2 linked regions of the Homo sapiens genome follow. The protein of the gene in region 2 interacts with the protein of the main gene of each other region in a pairwise test. Each region holds a gene or a part of one and is shown on either strand. Other genes may lie near its edges.

Evidence for each region. Proteins that work in one complex are often made in the same cells at the same time.
Region 1: the proteins of CRABP1 (region 2) and TH interact in binary tests that used the Homo sapiens proteins (3 or more experiments, as listed by UniProt).

What each region holds. Positions count from the first base shown.
Region 1 is NC_000011.10:2,162,892-2,170,105, forward strand, and holds the end of TH (tyrosine 3-monooxygenase), read right to left. Parts: intron 6,981-7,214; coding exon 6,759-6,980; intron 5,775-6,758; coding exon 5,600-5,774; intron 5,289-5,599; coding exon 5,200-5,288; intron 5,043-5,199; coding exon 4,975-5,042; intron 4,595-4,974; coding exon 4,544-4,594; intron 4,142-4,543; coding exon 3,996-4,141; intron 3,878-3,995; coding exon 3,742-3,877; intron 3,659-3,741; coding exon 3,589-3,658; intron 3,168-3,588; coding exon 3,111-3,167; intron 2,873-3,110; coding exon 2,777-2,872; intron 2,475-2,776; coding exon 2,341-2,474; intron 1,502-2,340; coding exon 1,342-1,501; 3' UTR 1,038-1,341; downstream 1-1,037. UniProt on the Homo sapiens protein: Catalyzes the conversion of L-tyrosine to L-dihydroxyphenylalanine (L-Dopa), the rate-limiting step in the biosynthesis of catecholamines, dopamine, noradrenaline, and adrenaline. Uses tetrahydrobiopterin and molecular oxygen to convert tyrosine to L-Dopa.
Region 2 is NC_000015.10:78,335,444-78,344,482, reverse strand, and holds the start of CRABP1 (cellular retinoic acid-binding protein 1), read right to left. Parts: upstream 4,131-9,039; 5' UTR 4,055-4,130; coding exon 3,985-4,054; intron 3,441-3,984; coding exon 3,262-3,440; intron 985-3,261; coding exon 871-984; intron 1-870. UniProt on the Homo sapiens protein: Cytosolic CRABPs may regulate the access of retinoic acid to the nuclear retinoic acid receptors.

The sequences.
Region 1 (7,214 bases), on a different chromosome or scaffold from region 2:
GCAGAGCCAGGCGCTGGCAGGGCCGGGGGGAGGCAAGGCAGGCACTTCCCCAGGGCTTCCTGGGGGCTCACAGCCCTTCAGAGACACCCCCAGCTGCAACCTCAGGGGCTGGGCACTAACAAGGTGTGTGAGGAACAGACTGCCAGGCTGGGAAGGACCACCATGCCCAGGAGGGCCTTCGTGGATGAGTAGGAGTTTGCCAGTGTTGTCGGCCGGGGAGCTGAGATCCAGGATCCCAGCAGCGTGTAGTGGGGTGGCTGGAGGGAGGCAGAGACCTTGAAGGCCAGCTGGTGTCCCAGCACCCCCTGCAGGATGCCCTGGGGCTGCTCTCTCCAAGGTAGGAAGGGGACACCCTGGCCGGTCAAGCCTGGAGGGTGTTGGGTGCTCTCTCTGGAGGGCAATGTCCAGGCCCCTCGAGTAAGCCAGGGGCATCTTACAGAGTCTGAAATCCAGCCCCCATCCTGCCTCGCTGGGGAGACAGGCCCAGACCATCTGCCTGGGCACCAGCTCAGCCAGACCCTCCCCATCAGCACACATGCTGGGGGCCACACTGAGGTTCCCCTTGGTTCGCAGGGCCTGCTCCGGGTGGGTGAGGGCATCAGGGCAGCTGTTCCTCCATCCCTGTTTCTCTCAAGGGCTGGGAGCCCTGTCAGCAGGGAGGGTTAGGCCTGCAGGCCCACCTCTGAGACCACCCCCAGCCAGCACAGTTTGTGACCCCTGCTCCCTGCCAGGCCTGAGAGAGGCCCTCCCACTGTCACGTGGCTCCCCACCTTGGGAGGGCACCCCACGGAGATGGGGCAGCTCGGCCAGGGTGCCCGAGCCTCTGGAGCTGCTTGGGGCTCAGAGCTGGGCGGGGCCTCAGGGTGAGCGGGGAAACCAGGCCCGGAGGGGCCAGCTGCCTGGCCAGGGCGGCCAGCCATCTCCCAGAGGAGGAAGGAGGCCAGGGCGAAACCTCTGAGTGAGGCTGGGGTGGGGGTGTGGGAGTCTGAGGATCCCAGGGTCTGTCTCTGTGGCACAGATGTGGGGCCAGGCAGGTGTAGAGACCACAGTTTCTTTTATTGTGACGGTGATTGGGGCAGCAGACAGTGTCAGGGAAGGGCGGAGGGCAGTGCAGCAGCCCCCAGGACCCTGGGAGCCAGGACAGGACCTCACCACAGGCAGCACAACCTCACCACGGGCACACACAGCTGTTGCGCTGAGAAGCAGGTGCAGGGGCAGTGGGAGCCTGGCAGCAGGGAGGGCATGGGGGGCACCCGGGACCCAGCCCCTCACCAGGGCCTGAGCTCCGGGACAGTGCAGGACCAGGGGAGGTTGGGAAGGGCCCTCAGGGACGCCGTGCACCTAGCCAATGGCACTCAGCGCATGGGCAAGGGTGTCCAGCTCATCCTGGACACCCTCCAGGGAGCGCCGCACGGCCTGGGGGCTGTCCAGCACGTCGATGGCCAGCGTGTACGGGTCGAACTTCACGGAGAAGGGGCGCTGGATGCGTGAGGCATAGCTCCTGGGGAGGAGAGCGGCAGAGCCCTCGTCAACTGGCGGGCAGAGTCTGCAGCCTCCAGGAGAGGGGAGGCCAGGGGCCGCGTTTCCACCTTCACAGTGGCTCAGAGCTCCCAGGGCTTTTCTGAGCCAACTGGTCACAGGCGGGACACTGAGGCCTCTTCCAGGGCTGGGTGAGGGGGTTCATGGGGGAGATAGGCTAGGCGCCTTTTCCACTAGAGACTGCCGGGCACCCCATCCCTCCCTGAACCTCCACTGGGCCTCCTCCAGGAAGCTTTCCTTGACCATATCCCTAAGCCTGTGGGTGGAATTCAGCACCCCTGTCCGCTGGACACATAGCCCCTGGCCTCAGTTTCCCCAGTGCATAAGAGGCTGGAGGGAAAATGATGAGACCTTTTATGAGGATGAGGCTAGAGGGCTTTGCTCCCCTCTCCTGACACTCTGGTCACTGCACCAAAGGCCCCCAGCCCTGGGGACCCCACTCCCGCCCTGTCCCCCACCTTGACTCTGTCTATCCCCCTGACTTCTCCCCATCCCAGGGCAGGGGGCCGGGACAGGTTCCACAGGACGTCCTCACAAAGCTCAGGCTCTGTCAGCACCTCCAAGACTGGCCTTGACCCGGCCACCCAGCAGCCCCCAGTCCTGTAGGTCTGCCCCTCCCCAGACGCTGGGGTCCTTCTCACGGATGGTGTCCCTGCTGTGTGGGGGCTGCTGCAACCAGGGGTCGGTTTTCTCATCTGTGACCTGGGCTCACAGGTCCAGCCCTGCTCAAGGCCAGAAGGAAGGCCTGGCTGGCCCAGTTTGGGGGCACCATGGGGGGCTTGCCCTAGCAGCCTAGCCCACCTGAGCTTGTCCTTGGCGTCACTGAAGCTCTCAGACACGAAGTAGACTGACTGGTACGTCTGGTCTTGGTAGGGCTGCACGGCCGCAGCCTCAGGGTCGAAGGCCCGAATCTCAGGCTCCTCAGACAGGCAGTGCTGGCAGGAGGCCAATGGCATCACTGACTCCACTGCACCCAGGTCCCCGAGGGAACTGGGGCACCGTGGCCTGACGCTGGGTGGGTTCCTTGGGTAGAGTCACCCCCATCTCCCCCGCCGGGCCTTCGGAGGCCTGGGATAATGTGGGGTGAGGACTGGGCAGAGACAAGCCTTCTCCCAAACAGAGCCTGAGTCCTGGAGGTCCAGGCCTCAGTTTCCTCCCACTGGGAGCCTGTCCCCTCCCTGCACCGTCCCCCAGCCCTGCCCCTCTGCTGGGGGCTGCAGCAAGGAGAGACTCTCACCAGGAGCTCCCCGTAGGAGGACAGCAGCCCGGCACCATAGGCCTTCACCTCCCCGTTCTGCTTACACAGCCCGAACTCCACCGTGAACCAGTACAGCTGCGGGGAAGCCGGGCAGCATCAGCCCAGAGACAGCTGCCGCCCACCGGGCAGCCCCTGGTCACCCGTGACCAGGATACCACCCCCAGGGAGGCCAGGCCAGGATGCAGGCAGGCCAGGGTGAGGGTCACAATTCGTGGGTGGAAGGAGAGGCCTCAGCCTGGACGGCAAGAGGGTGAGGCCTGGATTCAGACCCCCAAACCCACACCCCAGGCCCTGCAGGGAGGGGTCAACCCACCGTGGACAGCTTCTCAATTTCCTCATCCGAGGCCCCCAGGGACGCCAGGCCAATGTCCTGTGGAGCAGGGAGGATGAAGGATGGGGAGAGGCAGCCCTGGGTCATGCTCGAGGTGGGGGCACCGGGGGTGTCAGCAGCCCCTCCAGGGGTCTCTGGGACACTTCCCTGGCGGCAGAGACCTTCCCTGGCCGCCCAGGATCCGCACCTCCACCGGGCCTCCTCCTCCAGGCAGCCCTCCTTGACCACATTCCTAAGCCCGTGGGCGCCGTTCCCAGGTAGCCGGCAGGTGGCAGCACAGGCCGTGGGAGGCTCCGCTCCAGCCCCGCCCTATGCCGCGCGACCCTCGGGGCGCCGAGCCTCCTTGGCGGGGCCCGGGAGCAGGCAGCACACTTCACCCACCCGCACATCGATCCCCGCCCGCCCCCGGCGCCAAGCCAGCCCCTGGGTGACCCCGGCTCCCTCCGAGGCCGCGGCGTACCTGCGAGAACTGCGCGAAGGTGCGGTCGGCCAGCATGGGCACGTGCCCCAGCAGCTCGTGGCAGCAGTCCCTGCGCGTAGGAGGGAGAAGGGGGCTGAGGGGCCGCCCGTCGCACCCCCCACCCTCGGGCTGGCGGCCAGGGCGCGCACTCACGGCTCAGGGGAGTGCATGGGCGAGGACGCGTGGCGGATATACTGGGTGCACTGGAACACGCGGAAGGCCAGGCTGGCCAGGAAGTCCCGGGCGGACAGCAGGCCGGCCACAGGCCGCAGCTGGAAGCCCGTGCGCTCTGCAAGGGGCCACGCGGGTCACTGCCGAGCCGGGACGGGCTGGAGCCGCGCTGGGGTGGGGCGCTTGGCTGACCATCCCCGGCCCCCCGGCTCTGCGCCCCTCCCGTCTGGGCACACCCTTCAGGAAGCGGGAGACGTCCTCCAGCTGGGGGATATTGTCTTCCCGGTAGCCGCTGAAGCGCTCCAGCAAAGCAAAGGCCTCCAGGTGCTCCCCGCAGGCGTGCGTGGCGTAGAGGCCCTTCAGCGTGGTGTAGACCTCCTTCCTGCGGGCAGCCAGGCTCAGGGCCCTCTAATGCCCCACCCCAGTGCCCGAAACCCCCCTCCTGAACTGTGGGTGCCTCTGCCTGCCTGAGCCCCTACCAACGCAGGCCTCTTGGGGACCCCTGAAGACCCAGGCCCCCGGGAGGGGCTTTTGCTGGTGGCTTTAGGGAATCCCAGGGGATAGGGGGCCATGAGGGGCGGTCCCTCAGCACACTGGGGATGGCCCGACAGGATGGGTAGCCTCTTCCTCCCAACCCAACATTCTGAGCCCTGCAAGTCCCTCTTCTTCCCGGCCTTAGTCTCTCCTGTTGTGCCAAGGTCCCTGGAGGCGGCCCTCACACGCCAGGATTCCAGGAGGCATCCCCCGGGCTCCTCCCCAGCCCCTAGCTGCACGGAGGTCTCACCAGGTGGCAATCTCCTCGGCGGTGTACTCCACACGGGGAATCGGGTCGCCGCTGGGGAGGGGGCCAGTGGTCAGCAGGTCCCCTCGGGGAGTGAGAAGGGCAGGAGGGAGGGAGGGAGCTTCACTGGGCACAGGTCCACACCCGCCTAGTGCAGCGAGGCCTTTGGGTTGGAGGATGGACAGGAGGGTGCACCCCAGCTGACTGTGCCGTGAGCCGGCTATGTGGCCTCGGCAGGTTGCTCTAGCCCCCCTGGGCCTCAGTTTCCCCACTGGGATTTGGGGACATGGAAAGCCCTGGAGCAGAGCTGCCTGGCAGGAGGCACTGATGCTGGTGACAAGATGGGTCCTCCCCTTTGTCCTTCCCTCCCACCCCCCAGGTCCAGCGTCAGCCTGCAGGACGGAGTCTGGGTCCCGAGCGCAGGGGCCCCTCACTGCCTGTACTGGAAGGCGATCTCAGCAATCAGCTTCCTGCGCTGGCGGTACACCTGGTCCGAGAAGCCCTGAGGGCAGAGGGGATGCACGGGTCAGGAGGCTGTGCTGGGGTGGGGGCACAGGCCACGGAGGCTCCTGGAGCCGACAGACTCCTGTCCAGGGTTGGGCTAAGGGTAGGGGATGTGATCAGGGGCAGGAGGCCTGAGTGAGGGGCGCACCACTCACCGGGTGGTCCAAGTCCAGGTCAGGGTCGAACTTGGTGACCAGGTGATGACACTTGTCCAGCTCTGACACTTTTCTTGGGAACCAGGGGACTTTATGGGTGATGGAGGAAGAGATCTTGGTGAGCTCGGAGCCGTGGGGCTGTGTCACCCACCTTGAAGCAGCCTCCCCTACAAGACTTCCGGGGGGCAGAGGCAGCCGGGGCTGTGAGAGCTGCGGGGGGATCCTGGAGTGGCCCCAGGCCCGGACACGGATGTGTAGCAAAACGGGGTGCGGAGTGGAGCCCGCAGAGAGGGAACCAGGCCACCACCACGTGGTCACTGTAGGGTCCCCCTGCAGGAGCCCCTGCACCCCAGCCTCTCAAGGTCATTTGGTGGCCCTCAAGGACAGAAAACCGCCTCACCCTTGGGCCCCGCGGGGCTGCGCACGTCCTCTGACACCTGGCGCACACCACTGAGCAGGGCGGCCAGGTCCCCTCGGCGCACCTCGAGGCGCACGAAGTACTCCAGGTGGGGGCCCCCAGCTCGCGGCCTCTGGGCGGGCCGGGTCTCTAGATGGTGGATTTTGGCTTCAAACGTCTTAGGGAGCAAAAGCAGGAAGAGAGAGAGAAGGAGAAAGAGACAGAGATGGAGAGAGAGGGTGGGGTGGGCGGGGAGGAGGCACATCTGGCTGGCTGGCCAGGCCCTGCCCTTGACTTTTGTGCTAGCAGCACACAGATCCCGTTCTTCCAGGCTCAGGTCAGCTGTCGGCCACCAGGCCAGGGTTTGCCACTGGCAAGTTGGATTTTGTGTTACGTGCCTAACCAGGAGTTGTCACCGCTTGAGGCTTAACCTGGTTCTGGGCGGCTCGGTGTGTGTGTCCCAAGGCCATGCCACACAGTCCGGCTCCTCAGCCACTGGTCAGAAGGTGCCCCCAACCCTGGTGGCCTCATCCAGGTTTGTAGGATGGGCCCTGAGTCTCACTGGCCCCTGAGCGTCCAGGACACTGGCCAGAAGGGTCCGCTCCACCCCCACCTCCTGTTGCCTAGCAACAAGGGCGGTGGGTCGCAGTGGCCCTCGGGCCACAAAACTGGCTCTGGGAGCTGGGGGGCGGGGAGTCTGGCTTTAATGTCATTTGGGAGCTTCTTCCGGGAGCTGGGTCACCTGCCTCCCGGGGCACAGTGGGGCCGGAGTGACTAATGCAATCAGTGGTCACCTGAGCCACTGTGCTGGGTGGGTGGGAGAGGGCACACTGCCCTGCCCCTGCCTCTTGTGCTGCCCTGCTGGGAGCCCCCCACGTGGGAAATGGTGGGTGAGGGGGATCCAGGGGATGGGCAAGGCAAGAGGCACAGTGGGGCTTGGTAGCCTCAGCCCTAGGGGTGGGCTCAGGATCCCTCAAAAACACGGGGGTGTGGCTAGATGCCATGGGGGCTGAGCTGAGGCCTGAGACTCCCCTGCTGCATCCTGTGCCGGCCTCGGGGGCCTGGGCAGCTGCACCTCTGCTATAGAGGGGTCAGGAACTCAGCCCACACAGCCCCACCCACAGGTGAACTTGCCCCAGGGACACGAAGGCCACCAGCTCACCTCAAACACCTTCACAGCTCGGGACAGCGCCGAGGGCTTGGTGGCCCTCGGGGAGAAGAGCAGGTTTAGCACGGCCTTCCCCTCCTTCTCCTCAAAGGCCACAGCCTCCAGGGGGTCCCCGGGCTCCGAGGGGACTGCAGCGGCCGCTGCTGCCACCGCCGCCTCCCGCTCCTTGCGGGCGTCCTCGATGAGGCTCTGCCTGCGCCCAATGAACCGCGGGGACTGTGGGGACAAGGGGCACCCATGCCTCCTCCACCTGCTGAGACCCGGGGACCTCCACCCACAGCTGGTCCCACAGTCGGGCAGCGCTGATGGCACACAGAGGCAGGGGATGAGAGCACGTTTTTGAGCGCCTACTGTGTGCCTGCTGGGGCAGATGCTAGCCGAGGTGCCTGCGGGCATTGCACGCCCTTCCCGATGGGGGCAGCCCAGTCAGAAGCAGTGGTGGTGGGGGAG
Region 2 (9,039 bases):
TTTCGTCTGAATACTTTTTTTTTTTTAGAGACAGAGTCTCTGTCGCCCAGGCTGGAGTGCAGTGGTGCCATCTCAGCTCACTGCAACCTCCGCCTCCTGGGTTCAAGTGAATCTCCTGCCTCAGCTTCCCGAGTAGCTGGGATTACAGGCATATGCCACCACGCCCGGCTAATTTTGTATTTTTAGTAGAGACGGGGTTTCTCCATATTGATCAGGCTGGTCTCAAACTTGCAACCTCAGGTGATCCACCCGCTTTGGCCCCCCAGAATGCTGGGATCTGAATACTTTTAAGGAAAAGCCTATCTTTTTTAGTTCTACAGGGGCTCATCTCTCCACACTGTGTTATACTCAGACACTTCCCAAATTAGCATTCATTGCCTGGCTCCCAAAGGCCATTGGAGTTTGCAAATCACAGCTAAAAATGTTCTCTAAGGTTCTGAGTGCTGATGTGATAAAAATTACTGAAACCTTTTCCAGCCAGCAAAAGGGGGAATGAGAATGAAAAAAAATCCCTTCTGCCATGTGAGCGTGGGGACCTCATAGAGCCTAAGCATTCCAAGCCTGATGAGAGGGGAGCTTGGCTTAAAGCATGTCACCGCCACTGGGATGTATTAGTGTGGATAGTGGCAGGCACTCCAGCCTGTCTCCAGCCCCTATTCCATCCTCTGAGCCACTCCTCTTTCCTGCCAACCATTTAACAATGATTTCCTCTGACCTGAACTGTCATCTCGGGTTTTCTGCTCTAATTTTAATCCAGGGCAAATGGTGTCTTTCTCTGAACGGCCGAGTGAGGAGGACATATTTGTGGGGCCCATCTGGGGCCCCCTCTGGGGGAACTTCAGGATTATTTCAGGGTCAAGGGTTCCCTACCAGGATAAGTTCATCGTTGGCCAGCTCACGGGTCCAGTAGGTTTTGGGGCCGTCCCCTTCAAGAAGAGTTTGCGTGCAGTGGATCTTGTTCTCATTCTCCCAAGTGGCTAAACTCTGCAGGCGGGAAAACCATTAGTGACATTAATTAGAGTCTCAGCAGCGGGAGCAGGGACAACAATGAGCATTGAAAAATAATTGCTCTGCAGAGAATCAACACATGGTCCCTGTCAGCAGGCCACAGATTCTTCTCCGCTGAGCCTTATAAAGTCCAAATTCAGAGTGCTGGTCACAGATTTTATGGGGTATAAATACACCTTGTATAACACACACACACACTCACAAGCACACACAAACAATCTCTTACTGAAGCAGCGAGGCCTTAGGCATGCTTTACATCTCTAGGAATAAAATTTAGAGCATGAAATGATTCATTTATATAAAAATTAGCTAACCCTTCAAACAATTTGGATTTTATTTATTTTTATTCATTTTTTTTTTGAGATGGAGTCTCGCTCTGTTGCCCAGGCTGGAGTGCAGTGGCACAATCTTGGCTCCTTACAACCTCCACCTCCCAGGTTCAAGCAATTCTCCTGTCTCAGCCTCCTGAGTAGCTGGGATGACAGGTGCCTGCCACCACGCCCAGCTAATTTTTTTGGTATATTTAGTACAGATGGGGTTTCACCAGGCTGGTCTCGAACTCCTGACCTCAGGTGAACATAATTTGGATTTTAAAAGCAAGAACCTTCACATCAGAACCACAAGATTTGACAACAGTTAAGACACCAAGTTTGTAACCACATCTGTCATCAGCCTATCAGGAGCACGATTCCCTGCATGGATTTTGGGATAGGAACGTCCTTTCTGTTCACTCCTCATCAGATTTAGTGCACCCCTGCACTGATAAACCTCGGTGTCTTTGGCTCTGAGGGTTAAAATGCTGCCACTTTCCCGGTTACATCCCTTTAGAAAAAATTTAAAAAGCAAATCAATCTGAAGGCTCTTCATGCTTTTGGAGGTGGGAGGCAAAAGGAGGGATTTCCTGAAGTTTTTCCCCAGTGTCTGCACAAAGCTAAGTGTGGTACAGCTGGGCTGGGGGGTGGGCCAGAGCTGAATGTGCACATAATCAGTTTTTAACTAACACATGGGACACATTCATTAGGCAAGGTGTGGGGGGATGGGGGGTGCATAAAGCCCCACTCTCCCGGCTGTTGTGTGAACCTTTAATTTTTTTTTTTTAAATCAGAATTACCCTTCCTGGCAGTAGCCAACATTGGATGTCCCCAGACTGAGCCCTGCCTATTGCCAAGCCTCCTCTCTTAGACTCCCAGCCCTTCACTCTATGCTGTCCTGCTCTTTGTTTCTGCAGTGCAGTTTAGGCTTCAGATCCCACCCCCTCCAAGCGTGGAGATCATTTCCAGGCTATGACAATTCTGGAGCCAAAGATTGCCTCCTAGATCAGCCTGCTTCTGGGGGGCTTTGTTTCTTTGTCCTTCCAAGCCCGGTGCTCAGAGAGTCCCATTCCGAGATCAGACCAGGCACTGCTCAGGAAAGGTGAAAGAAACAATTTCCCACTCTCTGGAATGTTACGACTTTTTTCTTTAAAAAAAAAAAATTGGAGAAGGGGAGGGAGACATTCTGTCACTTTTTAAATAAGTGGTAGCACCGGTGATTATTTTTCCATCTGGTTAACCAAATGCAATTTTTGCCCATGCAAAAAACGAATGTACAACCCCTTGCTTCAATCCACCGGTTCATCCCTGGGCCGATGCATGGAGAAATAAAAAAAAACTCTTGCCCTTGAGGACTAAGAGAGGGCAACTAGTCCATTTTCCCAGCCAGAACCTGCCTTGCTTTTGGAAAGACTCCGCCGTTCCTTTAAGGAACCAGGCCGAAGGCGGGAAGGGAGAGGTGACGGGGCCATCGGGACTGCTAAAACTGTATCCAGAGCGTACCCAGGCGGCCCAGGGACCCGGGCGGGCGCGGGGGATACGGCGGGAAAGGAATGCAAGAGCTGCGGCTTCACCTGCGACAGAGAACCTGGCGGCTCCTGCAACCTCCTCCTCCTCCTGCGCCGCCTGCGCTTGGCGCTGCAAACCGCTGCAAAAGCCACTGCTGGGAACGCGGCGCAACCCAGAGCCCGCTCTTTAAGCGCGGCTGTTAGCACCCCGGGAGGCAGCGTAGGGATGGGGTTGAGATGGAATGAAGGTAATACTTTGTCTTGAGCCAGGGGCAACTAGGATGCACAAACCCCCTCTGCAAACAGCCAGTGTACACACCCTGCAAGGAAGGCGCGCCACAGGCTGCAAAGGGAGACACAGGTTCCTCCAGCAGCAGTGGGCCATGGGCACCGAGCGGGGACACGGGGACGCTGTAGTGGCTCTGGGGCCTCACCCTGCACTTGCGTCCGTCCACGGTCTCCTCCTCAAAGCCTTCTCCGACCTTGAAGTTGATCTCAGTGGTGCGCACCGTGGTGGATGTCTTGATGTAGAACTGATCCCCGTCCTGGCGGATCTCCACGTGCGGCTTGGACGCAGCCGCTACGGCCACTTTCCTCAGCATGGCGTTCACACCTGCGCAGGGTGCACCACAGGCTTGGGTCACGGGGCCTCGCCGCCAGTCTCGGGACCGGTCGGGCACTGGTCATACCCTAACTTTAGAAAGGGGCCTTAAAATTGATCCACTCGTTTCCCTGCCCTCGCCCTTGTTTTCGAGATGAGAGACTGAGGCACAGAGAGGGTAAGTGACTTTCCTCGAGTTGCACAGTGAATTCGTGGCAGAGCCTGGTCCCAAATTTGAGTCTCCAAATTTAAGTCCCTGATCCTCCTTGCTCTCCAGTAATCTCTCCTCGCTATGATCTAGCACGAGATAAAGTCCGCACCATCGAGGAGGGCGCCAAACATTCAGCAAACGTTCGCTGAACGCGTGGGTTCCGGGATCTCTACCAGCTTCTCCGAGACCCGGTGCGCCTGGGAGACAAGGCGATCTATTGCCCCGGGGACTCCCTCCTGCCTGGGCTCCCCAACTTCCACCCCCTCCAGGACCGGGGCACTTCCGGGACCAGGGCACCTCCGGGCCGCATCTCCCCGTCGGGGCGCGCCCTCTGCACCAGCTTACCCAGTGCCTTGAGCAGCTCGTCGAAATTCTCGCTGCTGCGCATCTTCCAGGTGCCGGCGAAGTTGGGCATGGTGGCGGTGGCGGCGGCGGCAGGTACGGACAGCGGCGGCGCAGCGGGCACACTCTGAGCTCGCAAGGCGGAGACTGGCGCTTTGCGCCCAGCGCTGCGCGCCTTGAGTCACTAGGAGAGCGCCCCCAACCCCGCCGGGCTTCTGGCCCCGCCCCGCCGGCCCTGCCCCCGCTCCCCCGCAGCCCCTACTCGGTATGCGCTCAACTCCCAGCCCAGTTGTGCCTCAGCCTCCAGAGGTGCGGGCACCCGCTCTCCAACTGGGGAGCCTCCACCTCCCTCAGGACACCCACATCCCGCTTTAAAATGGGTGGTGGGAGAGGGTTAGCTGAAACAAGATGGGCTTGGAGGGGATAACTGTTGAAGCTGGGCGGTGTGGACTTGGGTTATGATTCTACTTTTCTCTCTACTTTTGAATATGTTTGAAAATATCCATAACATAAACTTAAAGTGGATAGCGAGCGGGGCCATCAGGGGATGGGACCCACTCTTTTTTCACCTCCGGTCGTACCTACTGGGTGTGCCCAGATGGTGTCCCTTCCCTCCCAGTCCGGGATCCTATTCTGAAACCCTCTCCCCGCATCCCCACGCCCCCCACAGGACCCATGGGGAGTGAGTGGCAGGAAACCGCAACCCCCATCAACACCAGCTTGGGCACTGAGGCGCGAATCCACGAGCTGCGGGTCCTCCGCGTTCCGAGTGCAGGAGGGGGCCAGACCTTTGTCAGGGCTCAGGACAAACTGTGGGTCGAGAGGCATGGACTGAATCAGCTCCAGAATCTGGGCTAGGTGCGGCCTGTTTTGCAAAAGCGTGAGGCTTTGCACTCTTCGGGCAGGCTGTGAGGGCCAAGGGGAGGAAGTCTTCTCCCTTTGCTCCCAAATAACCTAAACATCACGACCTAAAGTCCCCTCGGTGTTTCCACTAAGGGAGTACAAACACTTCACTATTACCCTTGTAGCTCTTCTCTGTACATTTTCCTTCCAGCTTTTTCCCACTATTTTACCATCTGCACACCTCAGCCAAACTGTACAATTCAGGATTCTAGAACGTGCCATGCATTTTATTATCTCTAAGTTTTTGCCCATGCCATGGCTTCTTCCTTGAATGCCCCTTTCCTCATCGGGTTAATCAAATCTTGCCCATTCACGAAAGCCCATCTTTATGCTCTCTCTTTTGTGAAATTCAGTTTCCTAATAAACTGTGATTATTTTTCTCTGAATTGACAGGATTCTTGTCCGGTCCTGCTCTTGTTCAAGTCTTCGCTCTGCTATAAACTGAACTCCTGGAGGGCAGTGATCGTTTATCCACTTGTCCTCCCTTCCTAAGGCTTAGCCAGGTGGGGCTCGATAACTGTGCATTGATTTGAGGAGGATGTGAGTGGTGGCCTGGGGTGAAGATTCCCCCAGGACCTTGGGGAATCTGTGCTGAGTGCCTACTGAACAGGGCCCTGGAAACTTCTGGAGGTGGCTGGGGCTGGGTTGCTGCCAGGAGGCTCCGAGGATCTGTCTAAGAAAGCAGCTGAGGACAGGAGAGGGGAGTGGGGCCATCACCAGCTGGAAAGGGGCATGGGCAGGGCCGGCATTCTGGACGTGCCGTCTGTGCAGTCACACAGGGCCATGCACTTAGAAGGGCCTGATAGTTAGATTGGAAAATGGAAAAGCAGGAATGCTCTGCTATTGCCAGCTTGAACGTCAGAATACTTTTTGTTTGTTTGTTTGTTTTGAGACAGAGTCTCGCTCTGTTGCCCGAGCTGGAGTGCAGTGGCGCAATCTTGGCTCACTGCAACCTCTGCCTCCTGGGTTTAAATGATTCTCCTGGCTCAGCCTCCCAAGTAGCTGGGACTACAGGTGTGTGCTACTATGCCCAGCTAATTTTTTGTATTTTTAGTAGAGACAGGGTTTCACTGTGTTAGCCAGGATAGTCTCGATCTCCTGACCTCGTGATCCGCCCTCCTCGGCCTCCCAAAGTGCTGGGATTACAGGCATGAGCCACCGTGCCTGGCCCCATAATACTTTTTGAACAAGGAGTCCTGAATTTTTATTTTGCACTGGGATCTGCAAATTAAGTAGCAGGTCCTGGATGTGGGAGGCAAGGGATGGAGCTGCCATAGAATCAAACCCACTTCACAGAGGGTTGAGTGCCTCTCCAGTGAAGGGGCAAAACAGGAGTGCCATCCAGCTAATGCAGGCCTCTGCCCCCATCCAACACTCTTCCCTAAGAAGGCTTCAGCCATCTAAAGGGCAGGGCTGGGGAGGGACTGGGGCAGGAGGCTGGAGGAGGGCAGCAATGTTGGAGCAGCATCCTAGTTTACAGCCCAGAGAGACCTTGTGAGGATAGTCAGAGGGCCGTGGATGAGGCACAAAGGTGACAGAGAGCTCTTGCAGCAAAGGCATTGGATGGACAAAGAGGGAAGAGGGAAAGAAGAAGGTGAGGGAGGGAGTCAGAGAGAGAATGGGGCAAGAGGGGCCAGATGAAGGTGTCCACTCCAAAAGTTGGCCATACTGGGACAGGACAGTGGTGTCGTTCTGCAGGCACAAAACAAGGGCGGGAGCAGGGTCCAGGAGTGAGGAGGGCACAGCCAGTTCAGCCATAGAGTGGAAGATGATCCCAGAGTCCTTGTGAGCCCACTCTCCTTGTTTTTAAGACAGGGTCTGGCTCTGTCGCCAGTGCTGGAGTGCCCTGGTGCCATCTTGGGTCACTGTAACCTTGCCTCCCGGGCTCAAGCAATCCTCCTGCCTCAGCCTCCCAAGTAGCTGGGATTACAGGCATGCACCACCGTGCCTGGCTAATTTTTGTATTTTTAGTAGAGACAGGGGTTTGCCATGTTGCCCAGGATGGTCTCGAACTCCTGAGCTCAACCAGTTTGTCCACCTCAGCCTCCCAAAGTGCTAGGATTACAGGCATGAGCACCCAGCCTGCTGTCCTTGTTAATGGAAGTTTAGAGGTGACCAGAGCAGACAGGAGGGGCCAGGACTTCTCAGAAGACCCAAATCTCATCAGGTGGCACATGGAAATGGGAGGGCAGGCTGCTATCACCTTCCTGGCTACTGGGGAAACCCCAGAGTCAAGAGGGCCACAAAAACACCACCACCATGGCTGGGCACGGTGGCTCACACCTGTAATCCCAGCACTTAGGGAGGCTGAGGCAGGCGAATCACCTGAGGTCAGGAGTTCGAGATCAGCCTGGCCAACATGGTGAAAACCCATCTCTACTAAAAATACAAAATTAGTCGAACATGGTGGTGCGCCCCTGTAGTCCCAGCTACTCAGGAAGCTGAGTGAGGAGGATCACTTGAACCCAGGAGTCCCAGGTTGTAGTGAGCAGAGATCGCACCACTGCACTCCAGCCTGGGCAACAGAGTGAGATTCCGTCTCAAAAAGAAACAAACAAACCAACAAATAAACAAACAAAGAAAGCCACCACCATCGTGGTGTTTCTGTGGATCCAGAGCAGGCCCCCTGCTGGGCAGAGACCCGGCTCTTGGCCCGGGTCTTCAAACAGATGGGCAGAACCACCTGAAATGCTCTGACCTCCCTGTCTTCTCTCCTTCTCTTCTTTTACCCTTCCATTCGCTAACCTTTGCTGACCATCTCTGTGAGCCAGGAACTGGGTGCACCTCTGAGGATAGTGACCACTCAAGATCCAGGTCCTGTCTTGAAGGTTCACTGTTTACACAGGAGGAAATAACCTAGAAACTCTGTGATCACCACACGGGCTAATAGTGCCTGAGGGGCAGGTACTGAGCCCAGCCTGGGTTGAACCTTAGGAGTGGATCCAGAGGGGCTGTGAGAGTGAGGGAGTACAGTCAGAAGAACAACACGTGCAGGGACAGGGTTATGTGTTTGGGAACCACATATCTTTTGGCCTGGCTGGAGTGCATACCTTGAAGGGAGCAAGGTAGGAGGTAAGACAAGAGATGAGCTGAAGGCACTCTCCTAAGGACAAAGGGTCATGAATGCAGCGTTCCCAGGTGGCCACATAGAAGGATTTAAGCAGAGATGAGCCATGGTCCTACTGCATATTTGGAAAGTTGCCACCACCACAGCGTGGAGAATGAATGAGAGGAGACAAGTATATTACCAGGGATGCAGGGAGGAGGATTTTGCCCTGAACTAGGCAACCAGCGGTGATGTCGGCAGTGGGTTAGACCACAGTGGTTCCCTAAGGCTAGTCTGTGATTTGAGTCAGGCATTACAGCAGCCTGGGGAGCTTTCTAGAAATTCAGATTCCTTGGCCCCAGCCCAGGAGATTTGGATCCTGTAAGTCGTGGATAGGGCCCAGGAAACTGTGTTCGGCAAGTTTTCCAAGTGATTCTCCTTGCACAGCCAGATTGACTTTACAATATGTCATGACTGGTAGGGGTGAGGGAAGTGGGAGCAAGAGGCCAGAATGACTCCTAGATTCCTGGGTGGTGTGCTTGGTGGTCTCATTTGCTGCTATAGGTAAGACATGGATGGCAGATGAGTTTTATCTGGGAAGCGCTGGGTTTGAGTTGTCTGAGTATCCAGGATCCAGTGGGAAGTGTGGTTTTGGAGTTCGAGAGAGAGGTCTTAGCTGAAGACAGGGATGGGGGTCACCTGTTTCCAGCAAGCAGTTGAAGACATGAGTGTGGATGAGATGCGCAGAGACAGGACACAGAAAGAGAAGAGCAAAAGGCAAAGGGTAGAGCTTGGAGAATCTCAGCGTTTAGGGGTCAGATGGAGCAGGTGAGTGCTGAAGGAAGCAGGAGGGGAGAAGGAAGAAAACCAGAGGGTGATGTCCTCCCAGTCAAGGAGCCCAGCATTTTTTAAAAGGAGGGATTGGCTGGGTGCAGTGGCTCATGCATGTAATCCCAGCAGTTTGGAAGGCCGAGGTGGGTCGATCACCTGAGTTCAGGAGTTCAAGACCAGCCTGGCCAACATGGTGCAACCCCATCTCTACTAAAAATACAAAAATAGCCAGGTGTGGTGGCAGGCACCTGTAATCCCAGCTACTTGGGAGGCTGAGG